4 linked regions of the Homo sapiens genome follow. The protein of the gene in region 2 interacts with the protein of the main gene of each other region in a pairwise test. Each region holds a gene or a part of one and is shown on either strand. Other genes may lie near its edges.

Region 1 (2,971 bases), on a different chromosome or scaffold from region 2:
ATGTCGGAAGAAGAGCTGACCAAGGCCATGGAGGGGCTAGGCATGGACGAAGGGGATGGGGAAGGGAACATCCTCCCCATCATGCAGAGTATTATGCAGAACCTACTCTCCAAGGATGTGCTGTACCCATCACTGAAGGAGATCACAGAAAAGGTTTGTGAACTTCCATTTCTGCTTTTTCTCTTCATTTTCCATCACATCAACTGATGTGGGCTATTTTGTCTACTCAGAGCCTGCAGAAAGAGTAACTCGAGTGTGCTTTTTTTCCTTCTTTATTTATTTGAGGCAGGGAGAGTTGGGGGTTGGGGAGAGTTGTGTCTCTGAGAGAATAAAGCTGTCACACGGTATGTTGGGGTATAAGAGGTATAACGTTTGGGGTCTAAGAGGAAATCCTTCAGTTCTAGTTTTCTATAAACTGGTTCAAGACTCTGGGATTGTTGTCTGATCAATCTTGCATTTCTGACTTCATTTCTCCAGCAAGAATTTGGCTGGGCATGGTGGCTCATGCCTGTAATCCCAGCACCTTGGGAGGCCGAGGCGGGTGGATCACCTGAGGTCAGGAGTTCGAGACCAGCCTGGCCAACATGGTGAAACCCCGTCTGTAGTAAAAATACAAAAATTATCCTGGCGTAGTGGCTCACGCCTGTGATCGCAACTACTCAGGAGGCAGCAGGAGAATCACTTGAACCTGGGAGGCAGAGGTTGCAGTGAGCTGAGATTGTGCCACTGTACTCCGGCCTGGGTGACAGAGCAAGACTCCATCTGAAAAAGAAAAAGAATTAACTGAGGATTTACTTACTGGCTTTGTGATGTGAACAGTGTAAGCGTAGTTTAAATGATGGTCCCTGCCATAAAAGAGCTTATATGTGTGGTTGTATCATTTTGTTTTGAGACAGGGTCTAGCTCCAGTTGGAGCACAGTGGCACGATCTTGGCTCACCACAGCCTCCCCATCCCAGGCTCAAGTGTTTCTCCCATCTCAGCCTCCTGAGTGGCTGGGACTACAGGTGTGTGCCACCATGCTTGGCCAATGTTTTCAAAATTTTTTGTAGAGTTGAGCTCTCACTATATTGCTCAGGCTGGTCTCAAACTCCTGAGCTCAAGTGATCCTCCCACCTCAGCCTCCCAAAATGCTGGGATTACAAGTGTGAGCCACCACACCTGGCTAAAGAGTGTATAGTTTTACTGGAGAGATAAAATACAGGAATAGAAGCTTTTCAGTGACATGGGGAAATGTGGGTAAGTGTGTAATGAATAGTACAGACCACGAGTCAGCAGGCCAAGACCTGGGTGGGACAAATCCAACTCTCTAGCAAATAATGGTTTTTACATTTTTAAGGTCATTTGAAAAAAACTACAAAGAAAATGTGCAATAGCCGAGCGTAGTGGCTCACTCCTATAGTCCCAGCGCTTTGGGAGGCCACGGTGGACAGATTGCTTGAGCCCAGGAGTTTAAGACCAGCTTGAGCAACATGATGAAACCCTGTCTCTACAAAATACAAAAAAATTAGCCAGTCACAGTGGTGCACACTTGTAGACCCAGCTACTTGGGGAGGCTCAGGTGGGAGGATTGCTTGAGCCTGGGGAGATCGAGGCTGCAGTGAGTGGTGATCACACCATCACACTCCAGCCTGGGTGACAGAGTAAAACTCTGTCTCGAAAAAAAAGAAAAAAAAAACACAATAGAGACCATATGTGGCCCTTGAAGCCTAAAATATTCACTGTCTGGCCCTTTACAGAAGCTTACCAATCTCTGGTGACCATAAATGCTAACATGGCCAGGTGATCTGGTTGGAGTCAGTGCCGCTTTTCATGATGAACTTACTTATTTAGCTTTTCGTTTTTCTACGTCCCTTTCCCTTTCACATTTTAATCACATTGTTCTGATTACCCATCCATATCCATTGTTCACTTAATTCTTTTCCACCCATTCTCTCTTTTCTTAGTATCCAGAATGGTTGCAGAGTCATCGGGAATCTCTACCTCCAGAGCAGTTTGAAAAATATCAGGAGCAGCACAGCGTCATGTGCAAAATATGTGAGCAGTTTGAGGCAGAGACCCCCACAGACAGTGAAACCACTCAAAAGGCTCGTTTTGAGATGGTGCTGGATCTTATGCAGCAGGTAAGGCCTCTTGCCTTCTGCCCACTGGTGCTGTCCACTTAGGTGTTCAGTGAAGGAAGTATCTGGGAAGGATGCAATACTGCTAGACCTAGGTGGAGGAGGGATCCTCTCTTGTGATCTCTCTCAGAAGAAATAGAGAGATCATTCATTAGATTCCTCTTCTGGATCCTCTGTTGTTTTCTGGGCTTTTCTCTATTTCATGTTCCATTTTCCTTATTTTCTAGCTACAAGATTTAGGCCATCCTCCAAAAGAGCTGGCTGGAGAGATGGTGAGTATGTCTTATTTTTCCAGATTTTAATTTGAGTCCCCAATTTCCAGAATTCTTTAACCTCTCAGGATTCCACCTAAGGTGAAAATTGTGGCTACTGGGGATGGATCTTCACGTCTGTCCTAAAAAATGAGCAACTATCTGAGTCCCTTCATCTCTTCCCCAGCCTCCTGGCCTCAACTTTGACCTGGATGCCCTCAATCTTTCGGGCCCACCAGGTGCCAGTGGTGAACAGTGTCTGATCATGTGAAACACAACACGTTTTCCTCTCTGAGTCCCAGCTATGGGGAACATCTGGAGTCAGCAGAACCATTGGGACCTGAGGCAGGAGTGTCACCTGCGGGAGAAGTCTGCCCGCTGCCCTCTGTCATCCCATTCAAGATTGTGCCATACCAGCTGAGGTTTTTCCTCTGTCTCTCTAGGAATAGGGTCTGTTTCACAGGCCATTTCTGTGAACCCTACTCCATTGTGGTTTCTGCCACTATCAAAGTTCCAGCTACCTGCAAGGTGAAGGAAGGCATCCCTTTTGGGGCATGCACTTTCTTTCCTTTCTCAAAATAATGTTATATGTGGCCACACT
Region 2 (3,662 bases):
ATGCTAGGATGCTGAAAACAAAAATATGTTTTTGGTTCTACCAACAATCTCATCAATATTACAGTTGGGGTCCATTTTACAAACTTTATTCCTGTATTACCTTTAGGACTTCAGGTGCACAACTCACATTATCTGTCTTTATGATATTTAAGTTTTTTTCTTAAAGTATCCATTAATGTGATCAATCACTTACAAAAGCAAATTGTCCAAGTGGCCAAAGCTATATCCCGAGGGTAAATACATCAGAGCTTCTCAACTTTAATGTGCATACAAATCTTCTGAGAGCTATTTAAGATGCAGATTCTGAATTAGTATGTCTAGGGTGATCTAAGATTCCAAATTTCTATAAAGATCACATTTGTTACCAATGCTGTTGGTTACTGGACACTGTTTTGAGAACATGGATTGAAAGACAATATTTTTGAGGTAACAATACTCCCCAAAATGATCTGCAAATTCACTGCAATCTGTATCAAAATCCAAGCTGGCATTTCTGCAAAAATTGACATGCAGATTCTAAAATTCATATGAAAATGTGAGGGATCAAGATTAGCCAAAACAATCTTGAAAAATAACAAAATTGGAGGACTCATCATTCCTGATTTCAAAACTTACTGTATATGTATATTCTGAAAATGGCAATGTAAAACTGATACATCTGTTCTATTGGACCTAAATGGCTACTTTTAAGGAAATGCTTTGTTTAGAAAAAAAAAGGCAAGACTGCAAACTGTTTTGCAATTTGGTAATATCTTACAAAATTACAAACATCAAACATTTCTAACTCCATTTCTAATATTTCTTACAGATATGCTTTCACATATGTGAAATGACAAATGTACGTGGTTATTCTCAGCAGTATTTTCTGAAGATCAAAGGAGTAAATAACCTAAATGTCCACCAGAATGGCTCAGGTTAAAAAAATTATGGTGCAGGTCCACAATCCCTTACTTACAACCCTTGGATCCAGATACATTTTGAAATCTCAAGTTTTCTAATTTTGCAAAGGTTATATGGTACATATGCCATTTGGTATATTATGTAACACATCCAATAGAGTCTAAGGCAGCTCTCACTAAAAAGAGAATGTGATTTTTGCAGCAAAACATATAAATAGTTACATTAAAGAGGAAAGAGACTCAAAATACCCTCGTTTTACTTCAGGTCAGGTTTTACTCCCCAGATTTTTAGTTCATATCAGACAGGTTTTGCTGCCAAATGAGTTTACCAAAAAACTTCTGGTCTTCAAAGATTTTTAAAATTGTAAGTTATAGCTAGGTAGCTGTGAGCCTGCACCTTTATTACTATTATTTACTCTTCTTTGTTTTATAATTAGCTGTTTAAATATCTGCCTCTGGCCAGTGGCTGGACACCACAGCAGCAGATCCAGATTTATTTCCCTCTGCATCCCAACATGCCTGACATACATAAAACATTTAATTTTTTTTTTCTGGCAGGGTACAATTGCTCATGCCTTTAATTCCAGTGCTTTGGGAAGCTGAGTTGGGAGGATTACCTGAGGTCAGGAGTTCGAGATCAGCCTGGCCCACATGGCAAAACCCTGGCTCTACTAAAAATACAAAAATTAGCCATACAAGAATACAAGTGTACACTTGTAATCCCAGCTACCTGGGAGGCTAAGTCAGGAGAATTGCTTGAACCCAGGAGTTGGAGGTTGCAGTGAGTCAAGATGGGACCACTGCACTCCAGTCAGTGTGACAGAGGAAGACTCCATCTCAAAAAAAAAAAAAAAAAAAAAAGAAAAGAAGAAAACATTTAGTTTTTTCTCTGAATTGAATAAGCATGCCTTATAAGAAGGACTACTTGTTAATATTTGACTTCTGTAAGCAAATCAGATGTAGAATGATGTGGTAGAGTTATGCCCAGTAAGCAGTCAGTACTACTTGCACGTGGTTTATGACCGTGACAAGGACCGATTTCAGCACAGGAAGATTACTATTCTGAAATGCTGCCATTATTGTCAATTATTAAAAGATGTCTTATAAATAGGGATGTCAAGGGAAAAAAAGGGGATGCCAGGCGATTTTTATTTAAAGGGTATATAATTTTCTCTTAAATTGACTCTTGTGGTCTCATTTCACTCTGCTTTCTAAAAAAAATTCAAGATCAAATGTTTAGTTAATACCAACAAATCTCCCATTTTATTCAACTCCTACAAGTATGCAAAACACAACCCTTTCAATCCTTTGTGTACATGAAGACAAAATTCTAAAAAAAAAAAAAAAATAGAAGTTGTAATCCATGCAGAGATGCTTGAACCAAAATAAAGAAAAAAGAAAACAAGCTAAATGAATTAACTGTCTTGCATTAGCTTATATGCTATAGTTAAACCACACCCTAAACACATCTATTTTTAATTTCTTTTTTTGTTTGTTTTTTTCTTTTTTTGAGACAGCATCTCACTCTGTTGCTCAGGCCGGAGTGCAGCAGAGTGATCTCGTCTCACTGCAAACTTTGCCTCCTGGGTTCAAGTGATTCTTGTGCCTCAGCCTCCCAAGTAGCTGGGATCACAGGCGTGTGCCACCATGCCTGGCTAATTTTTGTGTTTTTTGTAGAGACGGGGTTTCACCAAGTTGGCAAGTCTGGTCTTGAACTCCTGACCTCAAGGTGATCTGCCCGCTTTCGCTTCCCAAAGTGCTGGGATTACAGGCATGAGCCACCACACCTGGCCAACATATCCATTTTAAAATTAGCTAGTAAATCATTGAATTCAAAGTACTATTAACGTAATTCTCAAAGCAAAATAGAAAACATGACCTATCAAAATAAAACCATGAATTCTGCTATAATTTCGAATATACTAAGTAAACTACCTGGTGTATTTTAATAGCTTACCACTTAAGGGTTAAAATTTTAAGGGTTTATAATGTTTTGGAACTTCATATAATGTGTTTGCCTGGAATGAAAACTCCTGGGTGACAAGATTGTAAGTTCTGTAAGTTTGTGCAGAATTCTTTTGACATGTAAATTTTAAACAAAACTTTTACATGATTTCATGATTCCTACCTTCTAAACATTTAGAGATTTTCTCCAGTCGGACTGGCGCGTGAAAGTAAGAAAAAAAATCAGAGATACAAATATTAATATGTGCATAATATATCAGTTGATGAATTTAAAAATAGGTAAAATAGTCCAACCTGAGGTTATATCAGAACTCCTGCCACTCTTTTTGTCCTCGACAATTTCATAAAATGGACCTATGACACGCAGCAATTCTTCAACTTTCTCAGTCATTGGCATAGTTTCAATAATCTGTAATCAAAAGAAACAAATATTGTGAAATCACAAACTCTTAATTTGATCTCCACTAATATCAAATAATCTCCTATTTCCAATTTGTCAATAATTTTAATATTTGACATTCATAATAGACTCTCTGAAGGATCTACATTAATTACATACTTAATGTATACACACTGTGGCCGGGCTAAGTGGTGGCTCATGCCTGTAATCCCAGCACTTTGGGAGGCCAAGGCAGGAGGATGGCTTGAGCCCAGAAGTTTGAGACCAGCCTTGGCAACACAGTGAGACCCTGTCTCTTAAAAATTTTTTAAAAAACATTAACCAGGCACGGTGGTGTGTGTCTGTGGTCCCAGCTACTCCAGAGGCTGAGGTGGGAGGATTACATGAGCCTGGGAGGT
Region 3 (3,558 bases), on a different chromosome or scaffold from region 2:
CCCTCTCAACTGCTGGCCATGTCCCCTGCCACCCTGTGGAACAGCAGGCTCGGAGAGCAGCCGGTGAGATGCTCTTAGTGAACAGGGCTCTGAAAGCCAGATCCCCTTCCCCTTCCCCATCACCTGTTCCCTTGAAGGGGTAGTTCCTAGACCTCACAAGTCACCTTGAGTCCTGGCCCTTCGATGGGACTCTGTTTGCCCAGGCCCTTTCATCAGGTATGAGGACTCTCGGATTTGAATGTTGTTCAATGAAACCCTGCTTGTGAAGCTATCCTTTGCTCTCCAAACTCTGTCCTCCTGCATTCAACCTTGCTCACACTCTCCTCCTCTTCAATCCACCCTGAATTTCTGTTCCTGGGCTGTCCTATCTTCATGTCACAGGTCTCAGGACAGTTTTGTTTGTCACCAGGAGAAAGAAGCCAAGGTCCCCTGAGCTGCCGGTTCTCCCTGCAGCAGGCTTTCCCAGGGCTCTGATCCCAGGGCTGAGCAAGGAGCTAGTGGAAGGAGCCTAAGGATATAGGGAGTCGGGTGGGTGGAGGCCGGGGCAGGGAATAGAGGCCTGTCAGGCCCTGTATGGGGTGGGCGAGCCTGTCCTAGCTCAAAGTTAAGCACAGCTCCTGTGCTGATTAGAAATGGGTTTGGAGAGTGGGGTTCTGAAAACGCATCCAAGTCAATGCCCAGCCTCTAATATTATCATCTTCCCCACCACACTGGGAGCTGCCACCTCAGCCAATGACACTGTCTCCTATTCCTTTCTCTTCAACCCCATCTTCTGCCCTGACTCAGGTCTTTCATTTCCCCTGTTGGTCTTGCATGGACCAGCTATGTTCTCCTAGTTCTGCCCTCGGACACTGTCTGACATTGCCGTGGTGTGCTTCCCCTCCATCTACTACCCATGGCTTCCTGCTGCCCAGAAACAGAATCTGGGCTTGGGGCACACCATATTTCTCTCTCCCCCATCTCGCTTTTTTGTTTTTCTTTCTTTCTTTCTTTTTTAAGAGACAGGGTCTTGCTCATTGTCCATGCTGGAGTGCAGTGGCACAATCATAGCTCACTGTAGCCTCAAACTCTTGAACTCAAGGGATCCTCCTGCCTTAGCGTCTGGGACTACAGGCACACCACATCAAACCAGCCTACTTTTTTTTCTTTTTGTAGAGATGGTGGTCTCGCTATGTTGCCCAGGCTGGTCTCGAACTCCTGGCCTCAAGCTATTCTCCCACCTCAGCCTCCAAAAGTGCTGGGACTGCAGGCATGAACTCCATCCTCTCTTCTGTTCAGCAACTTCCTGTCTCTCACCCTAGGTTTCTCTCTCCCTTTGACAGCTACCCCTTTCTTCTTGCTTCTGCTCCAAGGGTTTTGGGATCTGACTCTCCCAAGTTACTTGCTGGGGTTGGGGAAGAGACTGGACCCTCCCGTCTGTTACCAGCTGGGAAACCGGTCTGGGCCATCCCAGAGAGATCAGAGGCAAGAAGAGCAGGGTTTAAAGTCAGCTTCAAGGCTGGGGTCTGGCCTGAGTAATGAGATCCACACAGTCATGTCAGGCTGCTGCAGGAGAGCCCCTGTGAGGTTCCTGTTCCCTCAGCCCGGGCCCTGGGGGTTGGAAGAGCCAGGGGGATACGTGCAGGTCATGGGGCCTGAGTTGGGGTAGGAGGTCCAGAGGTCTCCACATCCCTGTGCTGTGCCATCTGTCTCAGGCCCTCAGACCGCCTCAGTGTGTTCCCCTGGAGCCTGGATCTGTTCTCTCCTGCCCGGGGGTAGGAGGTTAAATGAGGGGGTGAGAGGCTGTGCCCCTTTCATTCCACCATCTTTTCAAGTCTGCCCCTCGGGCTGGCTCTGACACCCTTCCTCTTCCATTCATCCCTCGGTAGCCACAGGGAAGCTGGAGGCTCACCTTCAGTCTCCCGGGATGTCTGTGGGAGTTTTGTTCTCCTGAGGGCCATATGTGGGGTTATTATTGCCACCCGATTTCTTGGCTCGCTAGCTTGGTGCTCAGGGTTGTGATGAAGACCTAACCTGCTTGACAGGAAGGGCTGCCTGGAGGCTGCCGAGAGCAGGGGCACAGTGACCCTGCATCGGGTAAGAGGCGGTGTAAAAGCAGGAGGGGCTGTCCAGAGGTCTGGCTCTGTGCCAGAAATGACAGCTGCCCTTTCTGGAGCCTTAGCTGTATTTTAAGTAGTGTATATGTACGAGTTCATTCGTCCTCACAACAGCCTTCTGTGGTCATTACTTCCGTTATCCTCACTTTACCTACAAGGACCCTGAGGCACAGGGTGGTTGGGCAGCGTCCATTAGGTCTCACAGGTGGAAAGCATCAGCCAGGATTCCAACCCAGGCAGTTAGGATCATCTGGGGTCCCTGAACTTAACCAGCTGGCCATATTGAGACCTGTGAGGCATGGTTTGTTGTTGGATGACACAGGAGGGAAGAGCCTGCAATAATTTTACATGACTTCAGGTTTCTTTGGGTTCATTTGCTTAGCAAATTCATTGAACACCTTCTATACACGAGGTATGAATACGGTGAATACATATTCATTCCACAAGCATTTTTTTTTCCTTTTTTGAGACGGAGTCTCACTCTGTCACCTAGGCTAGAGTGCAGTGGCGCTATCTCGGCTCACGGCAACCTCCGCCTCCCAGGTTCAAGCGATTCTCCTGCCTCAGCCTCCCGAGTAGCTGGGATTACAGGTGCATGCCACCATGCCCGGCTAATTTTTGTATTTTTAGTAGGGATGTGGTTTCACCATGTTGGCCAGGCTGGTCTCGAACTCCTGACCTCAGGTGATCTACCCACCTCGGCCTCCCAAAGTACTGGGATTACAGGCATGAGCTACTGCACCCAGCTTCCACAAGCATTTTTTTTTTTTTTTGAGACAGAGTCTTGCTCTGTAGCCCAGGCTGGAGTGCAGTGGTACGATCTCGCTCACTGCTACCTCCACCTCCTGGGTCCCGGTTCAAGCAATTCTTCTGCCTCAGCCTCCCGAGTAGCTGGGATTACAGGCACACGCCACCACGCCCAGCTAATTTTTGTACTTTTAGTAGAGACAGGGTTTCACCATGTTGGCCAGGCTGGTCTTGAACTCCTGACCTCATGATCCACCCACCTCAGCCTCCCAAAGTGCTGGGTTTACAGGGTGAGCCACCACGTCCAGCCTCCATAAGCATTTTTAAGATGAAATTTTAGTTTTATAAAAGTTATACATGCTTGTTAGGAAAAAAAAGTATGCAGAAAAATATAAAGAAAAAAAGCACATATGATATCACCATCCAGAGATGATTGTTGTTTAATTTTTTTGTATATGTGCACATATGCATGCCTTTGCAGAATCGGAGTTAGGTTGAATATTCAGTTTTGAATCCTGCTTTTTTCTCTTACCACTATCTTAAACAAGCATTCCTCAGGAGGCTGCTGGTGCTGGCGTTCAGATGAATCCAGTGAAGCAGAGTGCTCACTATTACCACAGAGAAGGGAGGGTGCAGAAGTGGGAAGACAACTCTGGAGTCAGGGTGCTTAGGAAAGTCCTCACAGAGGAGGAGCTGGGTCTTAAAGGAGGGTTCA
Region 4 (3,558 bases), on a different chromosome or scaffold from region 2:
CAGTTAGGGGTCTGGCTCCTGTGAGCTAGAGGTGGGGAGCTGCTAGCAGCAGGGGCACCTCTAAGCCCTTCTCCATGTGGGCAGGGCGGTGGTGGAAGGCCTGTGGCTGCGCTACCAGGGGGTGCCAGTGGAGGAGGACGTGGGGCGGGAGCGGCGGCGGCGAGTGCTGCAGACGCTGGTCTGGTTCCTGCTCACCCTGCTGCTGGCGCTCTTCATCCCTGACATCGGCAAGGTGATCTCAGTCATTGGAGGCCTGGCCGCCTGCTTCATCTTCGTCTTCCCAGGTGCGGACCCCTGGCGCCCCATCTCACAGCCCCACAGCACAGACTCCCAGGGCCTGCCTAGCCTCAGCTCCCTACTTGCTCAAAACATGCAGGAGAGAGTAACCACCAGCACTAATTGATCACCTGTCTCGCCTCTGTACTAGCCCCTATCCAAGCATTATCTCCTGGAAAGAAGGTATAGTTGTGATCTCCAGTTTACTGATGGCACGTGGGGCTCAGAAAGGGTCACAGACTTGCCTAGAGCTTAACAAACTCAACTAGTAACCTTTTCCATCCCACGCTGTCTGGGTCCAGAGTCTATTCTTTTAACCATTCATTCAGGTGTCTGCTGCTCCTTGACTATGAGGGATCTATCTGGCTGGTTCAGCCCATTACAGCCCAGAGGGCAGTGGGGTCTGGGGTGGCACCCTGACACAGACATCAGGGAACCTGGGTTCCAGACACAGATCTACCGCCAGATCCCTGGAGAACTGTCCTGTCTGCCCAGCCATGAGTTCCACCCTTTTCCAGCTTGTCTCTATCCAGGAAGCCACCCTGAAAGCCCCAGCTGCTTTGCTTGGAGCAGGGGAGCCAGATCTGCTGGGAAGTGTACTAGGAAGACCCCTGGGGTTGGGCCACCACTGAGTCACCATTGAGTGCTGTCCCTTTAGCTGAGTCTAGCATGCTGCCCAAGGGGTCTTGTCAGATGCCAGCCTGTCATGGGAGAGCAGATGCCAGATGACCCCAGCAGGATGTGGTGTGGGGGCAGAGATGGAATTTCTAGAAGAGTAAACATGGGCCTTTCTCCATCCAGCACTGCTTCTTGGGAAAGGAGGTGGCTAGGAGGGAGGGAGCCCTCTCCCCTCACAAATGCTCAGGGCCACTTCTTCTCTTTCAGGGCTGTGCCTCATTCAAGCCAAACTCTCTGAGATGGAAGAGGTCAAACCAGCCAGGTAAAGCAGGACCCAGCCCTTGATCCTCTCAGGGAGGTGCTGGATTGGAATGTGGCTTTGTGGGGGCCTTAAAACAGATAGGAGTCAGAGGCTTGTGTACTTAGAAATCATGGGTTTTTGTTTTGTTTTTTTTTTTTTGAGCCGGAGTCTCGCTGTGTCGCCCAGCCTGGAGTGCAGTGGCACGATCTCAGCTCACTGCAAGCTCCGCCTCCTGGGTTCACACCATTCTCGTGCCTCAGCCTCCCGAGTAGCTAGGACTACAGATGCCTGCCACCACACCCAGCTAATTTTTGTATTTTTAGTAGAGACGAGGTTTCACCATGTTGGCCAGGCCGGTCTCGAACTCCTGACCTTAGGTGATCCTCCTTCCTCGGCCTCCCAAAGTGCTGGCATTACAGGCGTGAGCCACCACACCCAGCCAGGTTGTTGTTGTTTTTTTTTTAATACTTTTAAAAATTCGGTAGTGTGCTAGTTGTTAACAATTTAAACATTAATAAAGGGCTTAATACAAAAAGATGGAAGTCCCTCTTCCCCCACAACCCACTCGCCCCCACATCCTTTCTGAGATAGCTCCATGTTACCAGTATGGTCTGTGTCCTCAACCACTTCTGTACATGTGTGCGTGTCTGTGTACACATAGCTATGGAGATGTATACATAGATGCAGGGCTCTTGTTTTGTTTTATGAAAAGTGGTTTCAGCCAGGTGCATTGGCTCATGCCTGTAATCCCAGCACTTTGGGAGGCCAACATGGGCAGATCACCCGAGGTCAGGAGTTCGAGACCAGCCTGACCAACATGGTGAAACCCCATCTCTACTAAAAATACAAAATTAGCTGGGCATGGTGGCACCTGCCTGTAATCCCAGCTACTTGGGAGACTGAGGCAGGAGAATTGCTTGAACCCAGGAGGCGGAGGTTGCAGTGAGCCGAGATCACACCATTACACTCCAGCCTGGGCAACAAGAGGGAAACTCTGTCTCAAAAAAAAAAAAAAAAAAAAAAAAAAAAAGCCATACAAACATGTCTAAAAAAGAAAAAAAATTGGCCAGGCACAGTGACTCACGCCTGTAATCCCAGCACTTTGGGAGGCCAAGACAGGCAGATCACCTGAGGTCAGGAGTTCGAGACCAGCCTGGCCAACATGGCAAAACCCCGTCTTTACTAAAAATACAAAAATTACCTGGTTGTGGTGGCGCATGCCTGTAGTCCTAGCTCGGGAGGCTGAGGTAGGAGAATTGCTTGAACCCCGGAGGCGGAGGTTGCAGTAAGTGGAGATCGCACCACTGCACTCCAGCCTGGGTGATAGCAAAACTCTGTCTCAAAAAAAGAAAAAGAAGAAGAAGAAAAAAAATCACCCTTTATTTCTTTTTTTTTTGTCTTTTTTTTTTTTTTTTTTTTTGAGATGGAGTTTCACTCGTTGCCCAGGCTGGAGTGCAATGGCGCGATCTCTGCTCACTACAACAACCTCCACCTCCCGGGTTCAAGCGATTCTCCTGCCTCAGCCTCCTGAGTAGCTTGGATTACAGGCGCCCACCACCACACCCAGCTAATTTTTTGGGTTTGTTGTTGTTGTTTTGAGATGGAATCTCGCTCTGTCACCCAGGCTGGAGTGCAGTGGCATGATCTCGGCTCACTGCAACCTCCAGGGTATCTGGGATTACAGGTGCGCAGCACCATGCCTGGCTAATTTTTGTATTTTTGGTAGAGACGGGGTTTCACCATGTTGGCTAGGCTGATCTCGAACTCCTGACCTCAGGTGATCCGCCCACCTTGGCCTCCCAAAGTTCTGGGATTACAGGCGTGAGCCACCATACCCAGCCATTTTTTGTATTTTTTTAGTAGAGACGGGGTTTCACCACGCTGGCCAGGCTGGTCTCAAACTCCTGACCTCAGGTGATCCACCTGCCTTGGCCTCCCAAAGTGCTGGGATTATAGACATGAGCCACCACACCCAGCCTAATTTTTCTATTTTTAGTAGAGATGGGGTTTCGCCATCTTGCCCAGGCTGGTCTTGAACTCCTGACCTCAGGTGATCCATCTGCCTCGGCCTCCCAAAGTGCTGGAATTACAGACATGAGCCACTGCACCCAGCCTAATTTTTCTGTTTTTAGTAGAGATGGGGTTTTGCCATCTTGCCCAGGCTGGTCTCGAACTCCTGACCTCAGGTTGCCCGCCTTGGCCTCCCAAAGTGCTGGGATTACAGGTGTGAGCCACCACACCCGGCCGGAAATCACCCTTTATTTCAATTCCGTTTTATCCCTGTTGCTGTTAATTGGTACATACATTTGCAGATGTCTGCTTTTTGTTTCCTTTTTTTAATGAAATAGACCACATTCCATGTG

What was found. Proteins that work in one complex are often made in the same cells at the same time.
Region 1: the proteins of ACBD5 (region 2) and PEX19 come close enough for resonance energy transfer, tested with the Homo sapiens proteins (one large-scale study listed by BioGRID).
Region 3: the proteins of ACBD5 (region 2) and TMEM229B interact in binary tests that used the Homo sapiens proteins (3 or more experiments, as listed by UniProt).
Region 4: the proteins of ACBD5 (region 2) and SLC38A7 interact in binary tests that used the Homo sapiens proteins (3 or more experiments, as listed by UniProt).

What each region holds. Positions count from the first base shown.
Region 1 is NC_000001.11:160,279,221-160,282,191, reverse strand, and holds part of PEX19 (peroxisomal biogenesis factor 19), read left to right. Parts: coding exon 1-153; intron 154-1,945; coding exon 1,946-2,122; intron 2,123-2,346; coding exon 2,347-2,391; intron 2,392-2,557; coding exon 2,558-2,641; 3' UTR 2,642-2,971. UniProt on the Homo sapiens protein: Necessary for early peroxisomal biogenesis. Acts both as a cytosolic chaperone and as an import receptor for peroxisomal membrane proteins (PMPs).
Region 2 is NC_000010.11:27,220,180-27,223,841, forward strand, and holds part of ACBD5 (acyl-CoA-binding domain-containing protein 5), read right to left. Parts: intron 3,274-3,662; coding exon 3,159-3,273; intron 3,061-3,158; coding exon of another isoform or gene 3,028-3,060; intron 1-3,027. UniProt on the Homo sapiens protein: Acyl-CoA binding protein which acts as the peroxisome receptor for pexophagy but is dispensable for aggrephagy and nonselective autophagy. Binds medium- and long-chain acyl-CoA esters.
Region 3 is NC_000014.9:67,478,722-67,482,279, reverse strand, and holds part of TMEM229B (transmembrane protein 229B), read left to right. Parts: intron 1-3,558.
Region 4 is NC_000016.10:58,667,771-58,671,328, reverse strand, and holds part of SLC38A7 (sodium-coupled neutral amino acid transporter 7), read left to right. Parts: intron 1-84; coding exon 85-284; exon of another isoform or gene 285-459; intron 460-1,161; coding exon 1,162-1,216; intron 1,217-3,558. UniProt on the Homo sapiens protein: Symporter that selectively cotransports sodium ions and amino acids, such as L-glutamine and L-asparagine from the lysosome into the cytoplasm and may participates in mTORC1 activation. The transport activity requires an acidic lysosomal lumen.